2 linked regions of the Homo sapiens genome follow. The protein of the gene in region 1 interacts with the protein of each later gene in a pairwise test. Each region holds a gene or a part of one and is shown in the gene's direction. Other genes may lie near its edges.

Evidence for each region. The genes of interacting proteins can lie anywhere in the genome.
Region 2: the proteins of SAMD4B (region 1) and USP53 interact in binary tests that used the Homo sapiens proteins (3 or more experiments, as listed by UniProt).

What each region holds. Positions count from the first base shown.
Region 1 is NC_000019.10:39,366,402-39,373,432, forward strand, and holds part of SAMD4B (protein Smaug homolog 2), read left to right. Parts: intron 1-2,760; exon of another isoform or gene 2,761-3,047; intron 3,048-3,253; coding exon 3,254-3,724; intron 3,725-7,031.
Region 2 is NC_000004.12:119,285,693-119,292,723, forward strand, and holds part of USP53 (ubiquitin carboxyl-terminal hydrolase 53), read left to right. Parts: intron 1-5,472; coding exon 5,473-5,569; intron 5,570-6,645; coding exon 6,646-7,031. UniProt on the Homo sapiens protein: Deubiquitinase that mediates 'Lys-63'-linked deubiquitination of tight junction proteins, such as MARVELD2 and LSR, and which is involved in the survival of auditory hair cells and hearing.

The sequences.
Region 1 (7,031 bases):
GGAGGTTGCAGTGAGCTGAGATCACTGCACTCCAGCCTGGGCAATAGAGCGAGACTCCATCTCAGAAAAATAGAAAACAAAAACTAACAAACAGGTGTTCTCTCTTGGAAGCTTAGAGCAAAGAGCCCCAGGCCAAGAAAATGCACAGTCTTTATAGCCAGGAGTTAGGAACTGTGTGAGATTCATTTTCCTAAGGCTACAAACTTAAGCAGAATTAGGAGTGTATGTGAATTCTAGGCCACAGAGTTCTAAGGGGATCATTAAGAGAAATAGGGCTACAGACAGGGCATTTCTGAGTTTGTATGCAAGGCCAGGTGTCCATCCTTCAGTGTGGGCAGAGGAGACCAGAAGTCCATGGAACTTTTTTTTTAAGTCAATCCTGAAGCATGCTAGATGTCCTTGGAATCGTAAAGGCCTAAGGAACTTGGGTTGAAAGACCCTCAGATGTCTAGGTTTCCAAGACTTTCCTTATAGGTGCTTATTCCTAGCCTCTTGGTTTCCTGGGCCCAGAGATTTGGCTTGTGCCTTTAGAATCTCTGTGTGTATCTGAAAGGAGGGAGACACAGTGAGATATAATAACCACAATACTAGTAAAAGCAGCTAGTGTTTACTGAGGACTTACTCTATGCTGTGGCCTCACATAATTCATAGCAGCCATGCCAGGTAGGAATGATTCTGGGCTCCACTTTACAGATAGAGAAAATAGAGCTCAGTGAAGTGATCACACTTGCCCAGAGTCACATGGCCAGTAAGTGGTGGTAAAGGGACATATGCCACATCTCTGCCTATTCCTTTTCATCACCCACTCCTTTGGGGTCCTAGCTCTGTCTGGTTAGAGCCAGCTCCTTTGCCCATTTCCAAGACCTCACCATTAGCACATCTCTCAGAACTCCTTTGTGAGATATTTGTAAGTCATCACCTTGGCTACAGATGTGAGCTCAGTTGCCCAAGGGTGAGAGCGTAGTTGGCCTCAGACCTAAATCTTTGTCTCTTTTCCCAAGTATTGGTATTTTTTGTCCCTCTCCTTGTCCTGTCAGCATTATCTCCATCTTCCACCCTGTTTAGCTAGTCACAGAAGTGCTAATGAGGTTTTTTTTTTCTTTTTCTTTTTTTTTTTTTTTTTTTTGAGACGGAGTCTCACTTTGCCCCCAGGCTGGAGTGCAGTGGCGCGATCTCGGCTCACTGCAACCTCCACCTCCCGAGTTCAAGTGATTCTCCTGCCTCAGCCTCCCAAGTAGCTGGAATTACAGGCATCCACCACCATGCCCGGTTAATTTTTGTATTTTTAGTAGAGACAGGCTTTCACCATGTCGGCCAGGCTGGTCTCCAGCTCCTGACCTCAGGTGATCCACCTGCCTCAGCCTCCCAGAGTGCTGGGATTACAGGCGTGAGCCACCACGCCCAGTGCTAATAAGGTCTTTGAGGGGGAGAGTCAGACTTGTAACAGTTCCTACCCAAGCCTTCTTTGATGTGGCCAGCCTGGGGCCATATTCTTAGGGACCTCCCTTGTGGGTTGAAAGGGGAAACCTGAGGCCGGGCGCAGTGGCTCACGCCTGTAATCCCAGCACTTTGGGAGGCTGAGGCGGGTGGATCACGAGGTCAGGAGATCGAGACCATCTTGGCTAATGCGGTGAAACCCTGTCTCTACTAAAAATACAAAAAATAAGCTGGGCGTGGTGGTGGGCGCCTGTAGTCCCAGCTACTCGGGAGGCTGAGGCAGTAGAATGGCATGAACTCAGAAGGTGGAGCTTGCAGTGAGCCAAGATCGCGCCACTGCACTCCAGCCTGGGCGACAGAGCGAGACTCCGCCTCAAAAAAAAAGAAAAGGGAAACCTGGCTTATCTCCACAGGGTAGACTCAGGTCCTCACACAGTGGGATAGAAAGGAGAGGTCAAGATGACCATGACATGGAACAGCCAGGGAATGCTTCCTGGAGGAAGGTAGTAAGTTAGGCCATCTACAAAAGAGAATTTGTATAGGAGGAAGGAGGTTGTTGCGGGCCAAAACCTTGAATCTCAGCCAAGGTGTGGAGCTTGGATAAATACATACTGTGGAGAGAACCCCAAGGAAGATGGGGAGATATCCTGAGCTGAGTCTTTATCTGGAGGAATGGGAGATGGAGGGTGCCCTGGAAATGAAGGTGATGTTAGGCTAGGAGTTCTTGGACTTGAGTCTGTTGGTGCTTGCTGGTTGCCATTATAAACTCCTGGTCAGGAACATGACATCCTGTTGTGATTTAGGAAGATAAATGCATCTGGATGTATGGGATCGATTGGAAGGGGAGAATCTAGAAGCAGAGAGACCAGTTAAAAAACAATAGCAAGCATTTATTATGTCGCCAAACCACTTTGTGTTCTTTGCTAGCTCATTGAATCTCAAAGCAACACTGTGAATTGGGTACTGTAATTATCTCCAAAATTTCGCAGATAATTTAGTGCTCCATGAGGTTCAAGGTAGCTTACCAAGATCTAGCTAGTAAGCTGGGGTGTCTAGACCATCTGATTCCAGAGCCCAAGCTTTTAACTACCATATACCACTGCCTTCTCCATTCAGGAAGGAGACTGCTTTTTGGCAGGGGAAATGGCATAGAGGCCATGAAGAATGGAGGAAGGAGTCATGGAGATAAAGCATGAGAGCAGGCCTGGGGACAGGAGTTGTTCAGATTCCAGAGTAGCAAGTTTGGCTGATTGGGAGGCACTGCAGGTTTCTGAGAACAGGAGTGATAGAACAAAGAAAAATTACTCTACACCAGCTGTGGTGGGCACATGACTGTAGTACCAGCTACTTGGGAGGCTGAGGCAAGAGGATTGCCTGAGTCCAGGAGTTCTGGGCTATAGTGTGCTATGCTGATTGGGTGTCTGCACTAAGTGTGGCCCCAGTATGGTGACCTCCTAGGAGTGGGGGACCACCAGGTTGCCTAAGGAGGGGTGAACTGGCCCAGTTTGGAAATGGAGCAGGTCAAAACTCCCGTGCTGATCAATAGTGGGATTGCACTTGTGAATAGCCACTGCACTGCAGCCTGGGCAACATAGTGAGACCCCATCTCTTAAAAAAAATAAGACAAAAATTACTCCAGAGGCAGGGTCAGTGTGTTTGATCTCACCTATATGAGGGATAAGTTTGGGAGTTATGAAAAGAAAATCGTTATGAAAAGAAGATTGGAGCTGAGGGAATAGGCCATAGGCAGTGCTCTCAGGTGAATAGGAGTACCCCACCCTGGCTCTCCTGATATTTCTTCTTATCCCTTCTGTAGCCATCGTCAGCCAGTGGCAGCAGGAGTCCAAAGAGAAGGTGGTGTCCCTCCTGCTGTCCCACCTTCCCCTGCTTCAGCCAGGCAACACAGAGGCCAAGTCGGAGTACATGAGGCTACTGCAGAAAGTGCTGGCCTACTCAATCGAGAGCAATGCTTTCATCGAGGAGAGTCGCCAGCTGCTTTCCTATGCCCTCATCCACCCAGCCACCACACTGGAGGACCGCAACGCACTGGCCCTCTGGCTGAGCCACCTGGAAGAGCGGTTGGCTAGTGGCTTCCGCTCCCGGCCAGAGCCCTCCTACCATTCACGTCAAGGCTCAGATGAGTGGGGGGGCCCTGCAGAGCTAGGCCCTGGGGAGGCAGGGCCAGGCTGGCAGGACAAGCCACCCCGGGAAAATGGACACGTGCCCTTCCACCCATCCAGCTCAGTGCCGCCAGCCATCAACAGTATTGGGAGCAATGCAAACACAGGTAAGTGGCGGGGGTGTCCCAGAAGGCCATGCCTACTTGAAAAAGGTTGGACTAGGCTCAGTGAGAGCTCTCTCGCTCTGTGGCATTAGACAAGTCACATAAGCTGTAGGCCTCAACTTTATGAGGCAATGCAGAGGCTGTGAACTGGCTTTCCCAGAGCTGAATCTGACCTACAGACATGTCTTATTGAACCCATACTTTGGTTTGGTTTTATTTTGTTGTGTTGGGTTTTTAAATAAATGTGAGTGGTACAAAGAATCAAGAATTTTTCCCTAAAAATGAGATTTCCAGCCTTTCTTGAGAAGTCAAAAGATCTAGCAACTCAACAAGATCTGTTTTCCTAGTGGCAGCAATAATATAGAGCTTAATGTTGAGCATGCCCTTTAGACCCTGCACAAGTGCCCTAGTCTGCCTCTGCTCCCACCAACCCCCCTTTGGGCATTTCTGATATATACCTGGCCTCTAAGGGCATCAGGCTATGACGCTTGATGGAGGTGTGCATACCATCATCTGAGATCCCTTCCAGTTCAGACAACATTATGGATTTTATGTATCTGGCCTCACTTTACAGCTTTGTTTCTGAGAACACTGTCTGTATAAGACAAAACTCATGCTGCAAGGTATTTGTAATAGTAGGTAGCATTTTTCAGCATTGACTATGCTAGGTACTCTTTTATAGACACTTTTCAGGTATGATCTCAGTCCGCATCACAACCGTATCATTAGCCCTATTCAACAGATGAGGACATCGGGACTCAGAGGTGAAGTGATGTGTTCAAAGTCACACGTAGAACAAGTGGTGGAACAGACCCAACCAGTCTGATGGCAGAGCCTGCCTCTGACCACTACACTGTCCTGCCAACTAAGCAGGTTTGAAAGAGCTCTCTTAGTAAAAGCCCTGCAGGCGGGAGTGAGCAGAAGTTGTTGGTATCCCAGTGACTTTTTGAAATGCACAGGATAAGGGAGGGTGGATTTTCCAAGCCATGGTAAGGCAGCATGACCTGACCCAGGGTGAGGGAGAGGGTTCATGATGTAAACCTCAGAGTAGCTAGTCACCTTCAGCAGGCACTGGTTTAAAGCAAGACAAGAGAGAGTGACAGTGAAATGTCACATGTGTCAGTGGGTGGGGGTAACCTCGGGTCCCTAATGCCCCGCTGTCTGGTACCTGGTGCTCATCAGTTATTCCTTGAGCCTGTTTTTCCCCCAGTTAGTGTGGCTATTCTGGTCCATCTGCCTCCCTCCCAGTTGCTGGTGAGAACCTGGGAAGATAGAGGGATAGAAGGGCAGTTTCAGGAAACTTAGCAACCTGAGGTGTCTTGGACCTCATTTTCCAGTCATGGAGCATCACAGTTCCAGGATGGGAGGATGTATTAATAATGATCATTCTAGGCAAAAAATATTGAGTGCTAGTCCGGGCATGGTGGCTCACGCCTGTAATCCCAGCACTTTGGGAGGCCGAGGCAGGCAGATCACCTGAGGTCAGGAGTTCGAGACCAGCCTGACCAACATGGTGAAACCTCATCTCTACTAAAAATATAAAAATTAGCTGGGTATGGTGGTGCATGCCTATAATTCCAGTTACTCGGGGGGCTGAGGCAGGAAGGTCGCTTGAACCCAGGAGGTGGAGGTGGCAGTGAGCCGAGATCTTGCCATTGCATTCCAGCCAGGGCAACAGAGCGAGACCCCATCTCAAAAAAAAAAAAACAAAAACACACATCGAGTGCTTAGTCTTTACTAGGAGCTATTCTAAGAACTTTATACATATAAACTCAAGGTTTAAAGCCAGGCATTCTGACTATAGACTTCATACTCTGAACTACTATGCTACACTACCTCCACCAAAAAGTACCTCTCCTGGAGATGCTCATCCCTCACCAAGGGGAGGGGTCACCCAGGCAGGGTGCCTATAAATTTCTTTGTCTTCATACCTTTTGTGCTCCCCATCATGGGTACCCCAGCAGCCATTAAAGGATGAAGATTGAACAATGTTGATAGGGGTTTGGACCAAAAGAGGAAAAGGAATTGGGCATTCCAAGTAGAAGGCACAGCATGAAATAAGCACGGGGTGGATAATTAGAGGGGACAGTATACAGACAGATCTGGCTGGGGTGGATTCGAATGAGTAATAACAGTAGCAGAGACTTGTGCTTACCGTGTGCCTATCCCTCTGCTAAGGACTTCATGCAGAAATGGAGGCAGAGAGGTGAATGAAGTGACTTGCCCAAGATCACACAGAGGCGACAGAGTCAGAGTCAGGATTTGAACTCAGGCCTGTCTTTACCCTCAGACCTCAGTGTGTGAAGGCTACATTCTGGGGGGCGTTGAAGGACAGGAGAAGCTTTTGGATTCCAGGCAGTTGCAGGAAACAGGAAATCATTAAAATATTTTTGAGTGGGGAGCAAGGATTGGCCTTTGAGGGCAGGCAGCTTGGGTTTGGGGTGCTGCCAAGAACAGATCAGGATTTCTTGGAGAGTGCAAGGCCCTGGATCTCTGGCCGGCATTCTTGTTTTTGTCATTCTCATGCTGTGGCCAGCCTCCACCCCAGTGCGGAGCCAAGCAGGGCTCCTCAGGAACTGCACGATCATTCCAGTCAGGGTAATTTCCTGCCTCTCAGCCTCTCCTGCCTACTTCTTGGCTGAGAAGGGAGAAAGAAGGAGGCCAGAGACACCAAAACAGGCAAAAAGGCCTGTCTTGAGGATTCCCCAGTCCCCCAGGGCCCAGAGTGTGCCATGTTCCCCAAGAGTGCTGAGTGGGGACAGAAGCCAGGGCTGAGGGAGTCTAGAGGCTGAAGAACTCCTGGGAAGAGGACCCTGGACACTCTGGGGTAGGGCAGAAACTGGTATTAAGGGTGGGCCACTGCCTTGCCCTGTCCCTTAGGTGACTTCCTAGCCAGGAGCATTAGTATTGTCACAGCTGAGGGAAGATGCTCTGGGGCCTGCACCAGGCTAGCCCTCCTTCCTGGGCTGGGTGTCACTGTAGCACTGGCAGGAACCCCAGCCTTTCCATCAGAAACAAGGCTTGGGCTCTGTCTCAGCCTGTCAACTCCCGTGGGAACTGGGGCAAAGGGCTTCAGCTCCCTGGGCCTTGATGTCCTCACCTACCCAGGGTGAGGCTCGTTGGCTTTGTTTCATTTCTTTTTGTCTAGGCTGACTTGGGGTACTTCTGGATGCCATAGGTGGAGCTCAGAGGCCCTCTTAGCACCCTTTTGTCCTTTATGAAACTTCGTTGGAAGGACTTCTGTGTGTCATGCCCTGTGCCTGATCATGGGATTGCAGAAGTAATTGGACTGGGCTGCCATTCTCCATGG
Region 2 (7,031 bases), on another chromosome or scaffold:
GTTTTTGGCAAACTACCAAGTTTGTTCATTTAAGATAAATACATTAGAAAGTATATTTAGAGAAGTACTTTTGTCAGCCGATTTTTTTTCTATGCATTTTAAACATTTTTTCTCTAAGAATTTCACAAACTGGTAACACATAATCTCTTCTCTTGCTGTGGCCTACCCAGGACCACCAAATGGCTACCTATGTACTTTTTTAAAACTAAACTTCTGGGATTGAAATTTGCTTTGTAGCAAAATAGCAATATTTGCTTTTCCTTTAAATTATAATCCAAGTGCAAAAAGCATTTATTGACTCCTGCTTTATTATTTTGTAAAATCCCCAAATTTAGGTTTCAGATAGTATAGATTATTACTACATATTAAAGTATCTCTCTACTCCTTTTAGTATGTAGTAAATTTATCCATAAATATTTATCTAGTTAAAGTTTTCTGATTTTTCTAAAATATTCAAATTTATTTCAAATGTATTTTTATTGTAAATTCAGTCATTGATTTGATTATTGCTGTTTAATGTTTAGGGTTTGTAAATATATATATATGTCTATTTTAAACATAGGTCTTTTTTTTAGATGAAATATATATTTTGATTTCTTGAATACTCTGCTTTGGGTTTTTTTGTATACAGAATCAAAATGGGCATTATTAAAGTTTCTTGCCTTGATACTGAGTTTTTTTTTTCTGTGTCAAAGCGTTAAAATTGGACTTAGATTTGCGAATAACCTGGAGCCAAAATTCCTCACAAAGACACATGGATGTCTATGTCAGCAGAAGAGAAAAATAACATATCTATTTTTAAGTTAGTTGGAATTCTGAAGTCAAACCACTTGGTTGAATGCCTGCCACAGTGATATTAAAATTTCAAACATGCTCATAAAACCTATGCTGCCTCCTGCTGCCCATTGTGTGAATAATTTATAAAAGTAAAGAATTACTTAAGAACTAAATATTTACTTGTTTCTTGTTTGTGAATATTAAACTTGAAATTATGAATTGGTGAATAAATTATGAATTGGCTAATAATATGAAGTTAAAAATCACACTGGGTAGCAAATTACATTTCAACTTAAAAATTAAGCTGTGAACATTGACAAATTATTGAAGTTCTTTTTGACATCTTATTTCTTGTCACATCTTTTTTTAATCATAAAATAGCTGTTGAAAAGATTGGCAAAGTTTTCGAGCCTCAGGCAGTGTGTCAGGCTTACCCACAGTGATTTTCTTAAACATGAAAAATAATATATTCCTTCTAGAGAGACTCTGGGATAAATTTTACTGCTTTTTAAAAGTGTTATGAGTATAGCACTTATAGACTTAAGTGGGAGGGAAAGATAAGATTTGTCTCAATTCATACTTAACTTGTCTTGCACCACTGAGTTGGGAACATGATGGGCAGGGTGGAGGTGACTTAAAAGAAGTAAAACTGTGTTTTTGAGGCAATTGTTTATTCTGCAGACCTTCATTTGAATGTCTTTTGTATGCTAGATACTGTGTTAACTTCTGGGCAAATTTTTTTTTTTAAAGGCACGTATATAATCAGAGCGCTTACAGCAATTTAGTGGAAGTAAACGTGTTAAATCTTAAATGAATGCCAGATTTATAGTTCCTCTCATTCTACCATCTTAAGTTTTTATTATTTACTATATGGAGCGATGTTGGCATAGAGGGTATTAAATTCTCATGTATATTACATGACTCTTTCTTGGAAATTGCTTCCAAGATTTAACTTGCAGAGCCTGATCATAATCAAATATAGATTATTTTTCCCCTATAGGGCAATACCTAAAAAATATCTAAGATAAAGAACACTTATTGTTTAAAAAATAAAATCACTGCTTTAATAACTTTGTTTTCTTTGCAGTCTTCATAGATTTGGTGTACAGTAAAGTAGAAACAGGAGAATGAGAGGAAAATGAGATAAATGAACATGATGAAAATGTCAACTAAAAATACGGGAGAATGCAGAAAAACTTACTAGAAATGTTACAGAAGTGTAGACGATTAATTGACAGTTCATGCTAATGCCATATATTTTGCTATCTTCTATGGGCATCAGCATGTTATTTGATGTTCACACTAGTGGCCTAGTTTCATCAGAAGGAGATTTAGTATAATGTCTTTGTATGTTAATGGCATAGTGCAGTGGCATGAGCACTAGCTTTGGAGTGAACCCTGGATTGGTTTAAATGCTCCTACTTACCAGATATATAGAATATAGATTAGGTCACTTAACTTCACTGAGCCTAAGTTTCCTCAAGTGTAAAAAGGGGAATTGTTTCACAGAACAGTTGTGACTGATGTTTTAAAAGACAACTATTACCAACTAGAACAGTAGTTGTCAAACTTTTGGGCCTCAGATATCTTTATAATCTTAGAAAAGGATTTATGACCTAAAAGAGCTTTTGTTATGGTTATGTCTTATATAGGTTATGTCTTATATAGGTTATGTCTATCAACATTTGCTAGATTAGGCACTAAAACTGAAACTTTCAAAATATTTATTCATTTAAAGAAATAAACCCAGTACATGCTAACACAAATAACATTTTTAAATGAAAATTAACTATTGAAAACAAAAATTTAGTGAGATGAATGGCATTGTTTTATGCTTTCAAATCTCAGTTAATGCTTGGCTTCATGTAAGATGGCTGGATTCTTGTTTTTGCATCAGACTGTTGTGATGTTTTCATGTATGAAGAAAGCCCATTTACACACAGATAATACAGTTGGAAATAGGAATATTTTAATAGCTTTTCCTAAAAATTGTGGATATTATTCTTTGACACTACACCAAGTAGTAGTTTCTTTAATGCAGTGTGAAATCTGAAACCATAGTATTTAACTTTTCGTCCTCCATTACATTAAAATACATCAGTCTGTCTTGCACTTTGAATGGATACTTTACTCATGCATGATTTTGTAACATCCATGTAGGGTCATTTAAAAAATACTGGTTTGCAGCCGGGCACGGTGGCTGACACCTGTAATCCCAGCACTTTGGGAGGCCGACGCTGGCGGATCACCTGAGGTTTGGAGTTCGAGACCAGCCTGACCAATATGAAGAAACCCCGTCTCTACTAAAAATATAAAAAATTAGCCAGGCGTGGTGGCGCATGCCTGAAATCCCAGCTACTCAGGAGGCTGAGGCAGGACAATTGCTTGAGCCTGGGAGGCGGAGGTTGCAGTGAGCCGAGATCGTGCCATTGCACTACAGCCTGGGCAACAAGAGCGAAACTCTGTCTCAAAAAAAAAAAAAAAAAAAAAATACTGGTTTGCTGAGTTATGCAGGGCTTCCAAGTGTTGATACATTTCACTAATATCTTTCTAAAAACTATTTTTGTTACTATCACCATAGATACTAGCAGAAAGTCTTTATAAGTATTGGGAAGTTGCAAAACTTGTGGTGGATACAAGTTTTCTTCAAACAGGTGTCATGCTTAGTATTACCACAGCAAAAGTGCTTTATGCATATTTCCCATTTCCTCATATAGAATAACAAAAAGATGTGCAAATGAAGTAAATTAATAAAATAATTGTTACTGTTTCATCAAGCATTCTTTAAGTAAAACTGGCTTAAAAAACACAAGTATATGGCAATGAAGAATACAATTAGTACAGTTTAGTGTTACTGCCTTGAATTATGCTAACATTTTTACCCATTATTGTTTTTGCGTCATCAGTGTAAATGGCAACACAGTCAAAAAGTAAAGTAACATCTTAATATTATCATGAAAATAGTTTGACTTCATAGACCCTCTGAAAGGGTCTCGGAGACCTCCCGGGGTCCAAGGCCACACTTCGAGAATTGCTGAACAAGCATAATCTTAAGACTTGGTACATATTGGGTATTCCATAAACTGTAGCTATCATTATTGTGGTGGTACATGACTAAAATAATTTTATACAGTTTTCTGCTTCTCATTTCTACGATAAGTGGGTGATGATGTTCACAAAGTAATTAAAGATACTTTTGTGCTTTGTTGATACATTGGTGGTTGTGACTTTTCTATCAGTATATTGGTGCCCCAGGACCCTTGTGCCTTAGTAAAGGAAAAAGCTCCCTGTAGACCTTCAGGTTCTCAGATATAAAGCACTTGTTCTCCCATAAGGGGGAATCAAAAACTGAGATGGTGTTAGGTAAACTCCTGTACAAATCCAAATGTCTTAGTTCCCTTTTCTTCATCTCTACCTTTTAAAATAATTTTTAGTTTTCAGGGTTTTGTTTGTTCAGTTGGGCCTACTTTATCTGTAGTCTGGACATTAATTTAATTTAATTGTATTAAAGATTAGAGGGCAATAGTCATTTTTATTAGAGCTGTTTTAGTTAAGGTCATGTTTTGTAGAGAGAAATCCAAATGTAGATAATGTTTTACTCTGAACATTAATATTGTTAAAGGCTCTCCAGTGAATTCTCCTAGAATCGTTGTTCAGAGGGAAATAGACCTGCTGTATTTTATGTGGTGCCATATTGACCTTTAGGTTCTAATCAATAGCTAGCTATAATTAGAGAGAGAGAAAAAATGATTAATTTGGTATCTGAAATCTCATGTAGCAGGCTTGGAAGACACTTGGAAGTAACAAAAGTCACACTGTAAATTAGTATAACTTTTTTCATAAGACTTCATTAAAATTAAATTAAAAAACTATTTGGTGCCTATTAAATGTCAGAACCAGGAGAGAAGTTAAGTATCAATTATTAGGAAGCATTATGGCATCATGGTTAAGAGCACGGACTTTTGAGTCATAAAGATCTAATTCTGTAGTATATCGATATATATACTTAACCTTTCTAAGCCACTGTTTTCTCATCTGTAACATCAAGTTGCTAGTCATTTCTTTATAAGGTTATTGTAAAGATTAAATGAAATATCCACTTCTCACAACTTGAGTAAGCAGTCAATAAATGGTAGCTAATTAGTAGTGGTATATTTTATATGCTATCATAATAACCTCCTACCAATTTTAATTCAGTTTAAATTCCTAATATTCCCATGAGGTAGGTAAAATGGATTATCATTATCCCATTATATAAGTGAGGGAACTGAGATTTTAAGAGGTTAAAAGGCTTGTTTACCTACCCATAATTAGTGAGTCCAAACTTCAACTCAAGCCAGCGATCTTCAAATGCAGGGTTTTTTTCACTGTTAACACTTGGTCAGTAAAGATCTTGTCTTAAGTAACAGGGAAAACACATACACAGATCTGCATGACCCAGCAGGAACAGCACTATTCCATCATGGATGACACCCTCAAGTGATAATAAACTGAAGAAATTTTGCATAAAGCATTCCAAAAAGAACTGTTATTTTGAGTTGGGTCTTAAAGAATTCATTTTTTTAAATTGGAAGAGATTACCTTTTATAGAAAGCTTTATGTAAATATAGAAAAGTATAAATGAAATAAATTCTGTAACATAATTTAAATAATTTTGTTTTCCTCATCTCTTCTCCCCACCCCACCCAACCCTAGGCTTTAGAAAAGAACTCAGGAATTTGGAAGCAGGCTATAAATCTCATGAATTCCACCCAGAATCACATTTACAAATAAAAAATCATTTGATAAAAAGGTAACCATATTTTTTTTCCCTAAATACATGTATTATAGGCACGTTGTTTATCAGAAGGGCATAAATACATATTATTACTTTGAAAGCAATGGGTCTATAGTATTGAGATGCCTTTCTTATTGGGAATCATTAATACAATGTGGATCTAAGGATAGAGAGCTTACAAAGTACCAGGTACAGTATCTGATTGTCTGTTTCAATCCTCACAGCATTCTTATGAGGTAGGTGATATTTTACAAGAGAAAATTTGAAGCTTAGGTTAAGTAATGTGACCAAAACTATCGAGCTGAGATTTGATTATAGCTCCATCTACCTAGCAAATCCTCAACTCTCTTTAACCATTGCATTCTAATTCAATTCCACATAATTCATATAAGAAAAATAATTTGCAATATGGCATCATTTACCCTCACCTTAGAAAATAACTATTACCTAAAGATAATCTTGATTACATTATTTTAAACTATTATACAGCCAGGTGTGATGTGGTGGTACATGTCTGTAATCCTAGCTACTGAGGAGGCTGAGGCAGCAGGATCACTTGAGGCCAGTTTAAAGCCAGCCTAGGCAACATAGCAAGACCCTCAAATATAATATAAATATATTTGCAAAATATAATAAAGTAATTAATATACTATACTGCTATATATCAAAATTTAAGTACTTCTACCTCTATTGCCTTTAAAGTTTGGAATGTTGGTGGGGAGATGTTTTAGAGTACTGTTTGACTGTTAACACTTTCCTCAAGTTCTATATATTGTTACAAATAAATGTAATTTTAGTGTTTTGAGTTGAAGTGAGTTTTTAAAATTATATTTCTAATTATTAGAAATGGGATTCTGGTAATGATGGGTGTTTCTGGTAAACACTCACATATTCTGACATAAAGAGTTTGGATTTGGAGAGAGTTGAAAATGTTAATGGTTGCAAATATCTTTCCATTTTTGTGGTTTTGTTGTAAAAATAATATAAACTGTATTTTGGGAAAATCAAACTACAAAACAAATGTTTATTTTCCCCTAGTTTCATATATTTGCATAGGGTGTTCTAGCTTTGTTTTTATTTTCATATTTCAGATCACATGTACATGAAGACAATGGAAAGTTATTTCCTTCATCCAGTCTACAAATACCCAAGGACCATAATGCAAGAGAACATATCCACCAGTCAGATGAACAGAAACTTGAAAAACCGAATGAATGCAAATTTTCTGAGTGGCTTAATATAGAAAATTCTGAGAGAACAGGTTTGCCTTTTCACGTTGATAACTCTGCTTCTGGGAAGAGAGTGAACAGTAATGAACCATCTTCATTATGGTCTTCACACCTAAGAACTGTTGGGTTAAAGCCAGAAACTGCTCCTCTCATCCAGCAACAAAATATCATGGATCAATGTTACTTTGAGAACTCTCTATCCACAGAATGTATAATTCGGTCAGCCAGCAGATCTGATGGGTGTCAGA